3 separate regions of the Homo sapiens genome follow, and regions 1 and 3 are each reported to be linked to region 2. Evidence: microRNA targets listed by miRTarBase, many of them from high-throughput screens and not tested one by one. Region 2 holds a microRNA gene; each other region holds the end of a gene's coding sequence.
What was found. Region 2 holds the annotated microRNA hsa-miR-3675-5p (UAUGGGGCUUCUGUAGAGAUUUC, at 1,488-1,510, opposite strand). A microRNA usually pairs through its seed, bases 2 to 8, with sites in the 3' UTR of a target mRNA and lowers its output. Matches are read on the target gene's strand: a 7mer-m8 pairs with bases 2 to 8, a 7mer-A1 pairs with bases 2 to 7 and ends in A, and an 8mer does both.

Region 1: miRTarBase lists SYNDIG1L as a target of hsa-miR-3675-5p. Seed matches in the 3' UTR shown: 7mer-m8 at 2,288-2,294 and 7mer-m8 at 1,304-1,310.
Region 3: miRTarBase lists CDADC1 as a target of hsa-miR-3675-5p. Seed matches in the 3' UTR shown: 7mer-A1 at 1,912-1,918.

Annotation. Positions count from the first base shown.
Region 1 is chr14:74,404,751-74,408,097 of GRCh38, forward strand. SYNDIG1L (synapse differentiation inducing 1 like) reads right to left here. Exons shown (of 4, transcript NM_001105579.2): 3 at 3,099-3,239; 4 at 1,149-2,943. The coding sequence ends at 2,785. Among named protein-coding and RNA genes, the nearest start is that of SYNDIG1L, 20 kb to the right of the region's middle. RefSeq lists an enhancer at 2,388-2,889.
Region 2 is chr1:16,857,501-16,860,849 of GRCh38, forward strand. It overlaps MIR3675 (microRNA 3675), which reads right to left and starts at 1,521; the gene lies at 1,449-1,521. It also overlaps the pseudogene PDE4DIPP9 and the pseudogene TRV-CAC11-2.
Region 3 is chr13:49,291,459-49,294,458 of GRCh38, reverse strand. It overlaps CDADC1 (cytidine and dCMP deaminase domain containing 1), which reads right to left. Exons shown (of 10, transcript NM_030911.4): 10 at 974-2,775. The coding sequence ends at 2,702. Among named protein-coding and RNA genes, the nearest start is that of CDADC1, 45 kb to the right of the region's middle.

The sequences.
Region 1 (3,347 bases), not on the chromosome of region 2:
TGAATGCAGAGGGGATCTAGGTGGGCACCAGGGCGTCTGCTGCTGGGTGGGTGGGTGTGGTGGACGTGGTGATATGCCACTCAGGATCCCTTCAGGAAGGATGGACAGCTTTCCAGCTGCTGCAGGTCCTGGCAGCAAACAGTCTTCAGGGCAAATGTTTTTGTGTTGTCTCAGCTGAAGACCACTGCCTTGCCTGAGGTCACACCCTCTTTCTGGGTGGCCCACATCTAATGACTGGTCAATGAGGGAGTGGAAAGACCTGGCTCTTCACCCCAATTTGGGTCAACTCTGGCTCCCCTGTGGGTTGGCCCAGCCTGTCATTCAGGACTGCATTGCAGCCTGACCTCTCCCTCTGCCCAGATCTGCCTCCCTCTCCATGCTTTTACAAACGTTATCCCAACAGCAGCCCCTCATATCCATCTCACAGGCTAATCTCTGTTTCTGGGGTTCGCAACCCATGCAGCATGTGTGTGTGCATACGTGCACAGCTGTGTCTTACAAGTAGGTGCACACGTGGATATGGGATGTGCATAACCTGCCTCCCCAGGGCCCTCCATCCAAGTGACCTAGAGGCCAGGCCAGTCCCTGTGCTGGCCCAGGCAGGCTCCTGGGGGCTCAGGTCTGAGAGGATATTGGAGATTTGGTGCTGAGCTGGGGCCTGAGGCAGGCAGAGATGCCTTCCTCTCCACATGGTCCAGGAGCGGCTCCTGGGATGGAAGAGATGGTGAAGGAGCAGGCAGCAGGGGCGTGGACTCCTTGGCCCCCTCACACCCTGTATCCACCCTTGGTAGCTCCAGGCAGCTCCATGGAGCCTCAGTCACCTTGGCTCACATCCCTTCCTCCCTGTCCTCCAAGGCTCTTGAGCCTAGAAGGGCTTTTTTTCCAGGCACGGATCTTGCTTTGGCTTGCCTAGAGCAAGCCAAATGCAGGCCATCACTCTACAGCCAGACTACTCCAAGCAGAGGAATCCTGGGATGGTGCAGACACTCTGGCCACCACTCCTCCTAAGGCCCATACGTGGGCTTGTCCTCTCCGCAGGCTGCCAGGGGTCAGAGCAGCAGACATAGCAACAGGTCAGTCTTGGAGAAGAATGGGATTCAGGCAAAGGCGGGGCAGGTAGCACAGCAAGATACCTAGAGGGCACCAGGTGTTACAGAAACATTTATTACAAGGATAAATCAGTACAATAATGGGACCTTAAAACTGCTGTGATGCAGGAGTGGAGGGCTGGGCAGTGCCCGAGGCAGGGGAGGACAGTGGGACAAGGGATGCTCAGTGGTGGAGCCACAGCCCTGGGCTCTGGATGGGGCATGGGAATGACCAGGTTCCCACATCATGCACAGCAGGGGCCTGTAGCTTGAGTCCAGACAGGCCTGCCCACATTGGTGCTGCCCCCCGCCTACCTGGAGATGTCTCTAAAATTCTGGATGTGCCCTAGTGGCTGAGGGTGTTGAGACTGGCACTGAGCAGAGATATCAGTGAAGATGCCCCAGGGGTAACCAGGTACCCACCACTGACCCCCTAGCATTCAGAGATGGGAAAACATCATTGGTCTTTGAGAGACAGGTGTGACGTTCCTCCTTGAGTTGGCAGAACCCTTAGGAATGGCTGTAGTTTGGCTCCAGCCCAGATGTTCCAGGCAGAATCCAAACAGCCTGGAAGCTTCCCATGGAAGGTTCCTGCCACATCCCTGCCTACAAATACAAAGAGTTATGTGACCAAATCCCTTAGATGAATTCTATTCATCCTAGGACTTGCTCAAGGGATACCTCCTCCAGGAAGCCTTCCTAAGCACCGCTGACTACTCAGCAGGCCATTCCTTCCCTGAGTCCCTTCCCTCATCTATACTCACTACTCCCTAGGGTCTCTCCTTGCTGCGTTTTCTGTAGGGCTGGACCTAGGGCCGTGCGCTCAGTGGCTGGTGAGCTGAGGGCACTCTCTGGGTCTAGTCTACTTGTGATGGCACCAGCTCACGGACCCCCAGGCAAAGCCCAGAAAAGGATGATAGGGGCGGGGAGTGGGGGGAGAGTAGGAAGAGTCATGTAGTACAGCAATATTTCAGGACCCTCTATTCTCTGTCATTGCAACTGCCTTTTGCACCCGCATGAAGAAGCTCCAAGAACCTGCCCTTGGTTCAGAGTTTACATACCGAGGCTCCTCTTCCCTATCTAGAATCTACAGTGCCTCACAAGCCCATGCAGAGATAAGCACCCTCTAGAATCAGAGACAGCAAGAGGCCCCCTTGCCTCCACGTATTTCCTTCTTGGCCTGCTGAGGTCTGGGCATGATGGGGCCAGACAGTGGAGTTGGGGGAAGCTCAGGCTGTCCCCAGGTGAAGATCCCTGTGGGCTGAAAGGATTGGGACGGGTCCCCTTGTGCTCTGGGCACCCCCTTTTCTCCCTGTAACCTCCTGCTCTTTCTCTGTGGGGAGGTTGGCAGGGTAGGTGGTGGGCTGGCTGTAGGGCAGGAGATCCTCTAGGGAATGGGCAGAATGGATGGAGCTAGGCCCTGCTGGGATGGCCTGGTGGGCAGCCCTGCCTTCTGTTTCCCGTCTGTAGCCTGGGTTAGAGAGTGGCGCCCCGGGCCCTGCTCTGGGGCTGGGAGCAGCGGGCAAGCAGAAGTGAAGGCTGAGCTCTGCAGGCTGTGGAATGGGGGTCTCCCCCTCAGCAAGCCACTCTCACGGGATCATCTTCAGGGGCCGGGCCTTTCCATAGGGTCTGCAACTCCAAGCCCCACTGCTTCCTCAGGTGGGCAGGGGAGTCAGGATGCAGGCCCTACTGGCTACTAGCCATGACCGTTCTGGGACATGTAAGCTGCCAGAGCCACCACCACAGCCACGTAGAGACCGGCCCCCACGGCGATGGCGAGTGTGGCTAGGAAGAGGGCCCGGCGGGAGGTGGTGCTGGCCAGGCGGAAGTCCCCTTTGGAGATGGCCTTGCTGGTCTAGGGAGAGAGACATGCTGATGAACAGGAGTGTCCCCACACCCAGCCAAACAGCCCAGCCTGCCAGGCCCCTGACCCCATCCTGCAGACGGGATGCCAAGCCCTCCAGTAGAGTGACGGGCCAGAGAAGGGACCTGGGCCCCAGGTGCTCTTACCCCCTGGGAGAAGTAGAAGGCAGCAATGCCCAGTGGCCAGAAGCAGCAGAGCATGGAGAAGAGAGTAAGTCCCAGGTGGTCCCTGGGAGGCAGCGTGAGGAAGTTGTCTTCACTTTCACTCTCCGTTGAAGTGGCATCGCTCTGCAAAACAGTGGAGTTTGGTGACCAGGCCCAGGATCAGCCCAGCCCCATCAGGCTGGCAAGAGGTTTTTTAAAAGGCAATGCCCAGTGGCCAGTGACATGGAGCAA
Region 2 (3,349 bases):
AGTATAGTATAGTATAGTATAGTATAGTATAGTATAGTATAGCATAGTATAGTGGTAATACTGGAATCAGACTGCCTAGCTCTGATGCTTACTACCCATGCAACCTTCTTAACCTTTCTGAGCCTTTGTCATTACCTATTAAATGAGGATGATAACAGAACCCATCTCAAAGGGTGGATATTAGGTTTAAATGAATTAATACAAGTGCTGGCCAGGTGTGGTGGCTCATGCCTGTAATCCCAACATTTTGGGAGGCTGAGGTGGGCAGAACACCCGAGGTCAGGAGTTCGAGACCAGGCTACCCAACATGGTGAAACCCTGTCTCTACTAAAAATATAAAAATTAGGTGGGCATGGTGGTGCACCCCTGTAATCCCAGCTACTCAGGAGGCTGAGGCAGGAGAATCGCTTGAACCTGGGAAGTGGAGGATGCAGTGAGCCGAGATGGTACCACTGCACCCCAGCCTGGGTGACAGAGCAAGACTCTGTCTCAAAAAAAAAAAAAAATTAGTACAAGTGCTTAGAATGGTGCCCAGCATACATTAAGCTCTCAATGCTATTTGCCATAGTTATCAGTGTTATTGACACTTTGTGTTGAAAACACAGACATTCATCTTGGTATGCGTCCTGGTTATCTACTGCTAAGTAAGAACCACTCTAAAACTTAGTGACTTCAAACAGTACTTTATTATGCTTCATGGTTCTGTGGTTTGACTGGGCTCAGCTGGGTGGCTCTCACTTAGGGTCTCTTGTTTTGGGTCTCATCAGTTGATGGCATGAGAGTTTATGTGATGGCCATGATTGCAAAATACAGTCAGCCACAGTATCACAACACAGAAGAAATTCAGACATCAGGTGGTGGTTAAAACAGAAGACATGAAAGGTCCTATCTAGACTTAGGATGAGATGAGTCTAATTATTCATTGAGTATCTGCTGTGAATCTCTGTGATGCTGGTGCTGTAAGGGATGTGAAACGCAGAACTATCTTCATTCTCACAGACCTTACGATTTATCTAGGGACATATAATTAACATATATAGAACAGTTGAAGAACAGTGGCATGGTAAATTTTTTGTTTTGTTTTGTTTTGATACAGAGTCTCACTCTGTCACCCAGGCTGGAGTGCAGTGGTGCCATCTCGGCTCACTGCAACCTCTCCCTCCCAGGTTCAAGCAATTCTCCTCCCTCAGCCTCCCAAGTAGCTGGGATTACAGGCATGTGCCACCATGCCCAGCTAGTTTTTTTGTGTGTTTTTAGTAGAGGAGGGGGTTTCACCATATTGGCCAGGCTGGTCTCGAACTTCTGACCTTGTGATCTGCCTGCCTCAGCCTCCCAAAGTGCTGGGATTACAGGCGTCAGTCACCACGCCCGGCCCATACTAAATTTTTAGTGCAATAATTTATCAGGGTAGAATTTACTCTTAAATACCTCCTATGGCTTACGTGCCAGAATTCAGTTTGGGGGAGTTCCTTAGAGATGTTCTCATAGAAATCTCTACAGAAGCCCCATAACTTATCATCCACCCTTTCCTCTTCTGTCCTGCATTAGGAAATATGATTCCCTGATTCAGGATCAGCCCCGGGAACTGTCTTACCTACGGCAAAAAATACGAGAAGGGAGAGGTGTTTGTTATCTTCTCACCCAGCATGCAAAAGATACAGTAAAATCTTTTGAGGATCTCTTAAGGAGCAATGACATTGACTACTACCTGGGACAGAGCTTCCGGGAGCAACTGGCCCGGGGAAGCCAGCTGACAGAGAGGCTCACCAGCACACTCAGCACCAGTAGGTTGGCCACAGGGCTTTGGATACTCTCAGTCACCCCACAGTTCCAGCCCCTGGTGGCCACCACATCTCCACTGCAACTTTTTAACGTAGGGTCCTGTTTCTATTTCATTTCCTGGGGCTAATACAGGATCAAGACTGCTCAATGGGGAGCATGGAGAGGAACACACAGGGCTGGAGATGCCATGGTTACAACTCTAGAAACTTCACCACTCATGGAATGTGACCTGTGGGGCAGGGGCGGCATCTCTCTGGTGCTAAGAGGGAGTAGGGGACATGACATGGAAGGGCCTTGTTATAGGAGGAAGAGCCGTGAGCTAACAATTGCAAGACGTCGAGGCGCTGAGGCCAAAGGGTCCGTGAGGAAACAGGCGCAGCTCGCGCCCCTCGGCCTACGGGAGGGAGGGCAAGGAGAGTCCTACGGTTCCTGGGAGGACGAGAAGAGCCAAGAGCCCCGACGGCCGGCGCCGGGGAAAAGGCCCCGAGGCGGGGTCCGCATCCCTGGAAGGGCGGCGTCCACCCTCCTGAGAGGCACGGGGCGCCCAGGGCTCGGACGCTCAAAGCCCGCCGGCTCCTGCAGCTTCTGGGAGCCGAAGAGTGTCAGCCGGGAGGATCCCGCACACGGCGCTTAGTTCTGGAACTGCATACCCAGGGGAGGATGCGGGAGCCCGAAGCCCGGGTATGTGTCCCCGAAGCCCGGGTGTGGGTCCCCATGGTTTTCGTGTTGGGGGTGGGCGCGGAACGCTAAGCCTGGGCCTATTGGGAGCCATAGTCTTCTTGATGGCTGGTGCTTATTGGGCTTTTTTCAGTCGAATTTCGAAATGCAGTTGAATTTCTTACTTTGGAAACGATAATAGAAATGGCTGACCTAAGATTTTCATGATGATATTTTGCCTTTTTTGGTGTATATGCAGTTTCTGTGGTGTAGTGGTTATTATGTTCGCTTCACATATGAAAGGTCTCTGGTTCGAGACTGCGTGGGAACATCGTGTTTTGTTTTGTTTTTTTGTCCCTAAATTTAGTGAGTTTAATCGAGGTTGGGAAACAAACAGAAAAGTAGTTGAACCTGTGGCTACACTTTAGACCTCCTCAATCTAGACAGATCGTTGACCAGGCTACAGTTTCCACTGGTCTGCCAGCAAGAGGCCTGCTTAATATTAGCTTTGGTTCCAGAAATTCCTTCAGGTTCTCTTCATTCTCTTCTATCGCCTGTATTTTCACAGGCTGACACTGAAAGTGGATGACATCTTAGTGCATTTCCTAAGGGTCCCGCTTGGCTTCGCTTTACTCTGGTAAGTTGCAGATCTGGCTGATTTGCAAGACAACAAAAACAAAATATTTTTTAAAAAGGTTCTAAATCTGCATCTGGAAGTCATAGAGTCAATATTCCTAAATCACATGAATTATGTGTATACATTTGCATGCATACCCCTTCCCCAAATAATCCTCAGAAAACCGGTTAAGTTTTAGCATCTGTGACTCTGAGATGCATATGAGGCCTTTGTAAATTTAGAAGTTAAGAGTAGAAAGTACAGGTTTGTATTTTAGAAGGAGATTTGGGAATA
Region 3 (3,000 bases), not on the chromosome of region 2:
AGTGCCCCACAGAGCTTCTCCAAACCCAGGCGGGCTCCTGGGGTGGCTCAGCAGTCTGTCTCCATCACTTTTTCCCAGAAATTTGTCTCATTCCCACTGTTTACCTGGCAAACCCCTGGATCCCCTCAGGCCCCACCTCATCACCTCTGCCTCTACAGGGTCCTTTCCATGACTCCCCAGAGTGCTGGTAAATCCTCGTGTGCCCCCACTGTTCCTACAGTTACATCCACAATGGCAGTTCTCAGCCTTAAAGGTCACCAGAATCACCCGCAAGGTCGTGAAACCCCAGCTTGCTGGGCCCACCCTGAGAGGTTCTAATTCAGTAAGCCTAGGGAGCACCCTAAGAATATGCACTTCTAACAAATAGTCTGCTGGTCCAGAGACATTTTTTTCTTTTCTTTTCTTTTAGACTAAGTCTCGCTCTGTTGTCCAGGCTGGAGTGCAGTGGCATGATCTCAGCTCACTGCAACCTCTGCCTCCTGGGTTCATGTGATTCTCCTGCTTCAGTCTCCCAAATAGCTGGGATTACAGGCATGCAATACCATGTCTAGCTTTTTTTTTTTTTTTTTTTTTTTGTATTTTTAGTAGAGACGGGGTTTTACCATGTTGACCAGGCTGGTCTTGAACTCCTGACCTCAAGTGATCTACCCCACTCAGCCTCCCAAAGTGCTGGGATTACAGGTGTGAGCCACGGCACCTGGCCTGAGAATCATTTTTCTTAATTACTTGATTCCATGCTTGTATCTTCCACTTGACTGTGAGTGTCTTAAGATCAGGAGGCATTTCTCACACATCTCATCCCCGCAGTCTAGCAGTGTTTAGCAGTCATTCAATCAATAAACAAATATTTATGGAATGCCTACTGTGTGCCAGGTACTGTTCTAGACACTGGGGTTCAGCAGTTAAAAAGTACACACACACACACACACACACCTCCCTGCCCTCATAGACTTCACCTTCTGAGGCTACACAGTAAACCATCAATGATTATTTATTGAAATCTGACCAGTTGTACAGAAGAAAAAAAATGGCATTATCATGCCTCTCTTAATAGTACTGTGGAAATGCCTATTTTTCCCTTTCTAATCACAGTTTTTCCCACTTGTATGCTTCTTCCTCTGATATCCCATCCCAACACCCAACAGGCAAATCCACAGACCTGGCAATATGCCAGGATTTTGGGTCTTACAAAATATTTACTGATTGATTTATAAAATGTTTGGTGTACATGACATGTTAGTTAGAAACAACAAATCCAAGAGCTGAAGCATGAGAGTTAATACAATAAAGCAATTTGGGAGGTAAGCAATCTCAGTGTTTTTATACTGATAAGAATATCTTAATTCACGGTTTTCAAACTAGCCTTAGTTACCTCTAAGTGTACATCACCTCCTCTCCTGTCCTATCCCATGCCCTCCATCTGTGTAGTGTTTATGGCAGTTCTTGGCTGCCTTGTATGATGACTCTGAACTCCCCATGGTCCTACACAGGCTGCAGTCACAGCCCTGGCATGGAGCCAATGTTTGGATGGTCGTGCGTGTAATTCTGAGAAACTGGTAGGAAGCCCAGTGAGGCCGTGTGATGTGGCGGAAAGGCAGGGAACAAAAGCAGAGGCAAACCTGACCACCGCAGATCCAGGAAGACATTTCTCATGAAGCACCCCAGGCCACCCCTCTCTAACCTAGGAGAGAACAGAAAATGTACCTTCATTTTTGGAATAATTTTCTGAATGTTTCTCAGCAAATAAAAATGTGAGAAATCACAGACAGCAATCTGGAATAGCTGAAATGACCATACTTTCAAGACTTTCAGTATTTATTCTTGAGGTTGGCAAATGTTTTTAAAAGGCTCTTCCTTTTGAAGATCAAAGCCATGAGACAACCTATGTTAATTATACAGAAGGGAAGACTATATGGGGGAGCAGCATTTATTAATGGAATTCTAGGAAAGCTAGTTTCAATATTCCAGACTCAAATATTTCTTCTCTGTTAACATCATAACCAAATTTGAGGTTCACTGTTAGTGATTTCAAGAGTCAGTGATATCAAGCAGCGACACTGTCTCAGAATAACACTCTCTTCCTATTGCTACCCAAAGTCTGTGATAAACAGGACCACAGAATTAACATTTACAAAATATACTTTAAAAATGGAGACAAAGTCCACTAACTTTATTTTTATGAGTCAATTCTAATTAAGTAAATTCTGATTACTAGAAAGCTTTGGGTATAAATGTGATCTTTTGGTTTGCTATACACTGACTCTTAAAAGATGACACTTATTTCCCTGGAGCAGTTTACTAACTGTCACTCTTGTAATTCAAAAGAATTAATATTTCTCAAAAGGTGTGTGATTCCCTGCAGAGGCATGACCTCTTGTGAAGCAGACCCTTTCAAATTGGCTAATATAAAGTCAAGATAAATAGAAATCAGTCCCTGTTGGTGATTACATTGGTTGAAGTTATTGCTCCCTCATTTCGTGTAATAAAATAACACACTACTACATTATGGAAAACCCACACATAAATCTAAAAGACAAATATTCTTATTAACACCATTTGTATCCTAGAAATAAATTAGCTTCCTTAAAAAATCTTTTCAATTATTCACAAAATCCATCCTTATTTTCTGAATGAACAAGGCTGAATTTTAGAAGTGCAATGAAAAGTTCTTGAGGTTCCCCTGCAGTGTAGACAGGCCTTCTTAGTGGATTCCGAGGCGCAGCTTCTTGTCCTGGTGCTGCTCTTCCTTCTGTGGGACAGGTCTCAACACACCATCTAGCATTGAGAATAACGCTAGGTCAGGACAGCTTCATTTCAAACCCATGGGCACTTGTTTCAGCCTTACATGTTGTAAGAGCAAAACAATGCTTAAGTTAAAGGAACTTTCACTTTATTTTATCTTCAAATTCTCAATTGTAGAGAATCCAATCTAGATAACTTACTCTCAGGCAATACAGAATCTGGCTTTTAAAAACTGGATTCACATTGGCCGGGTGCAAT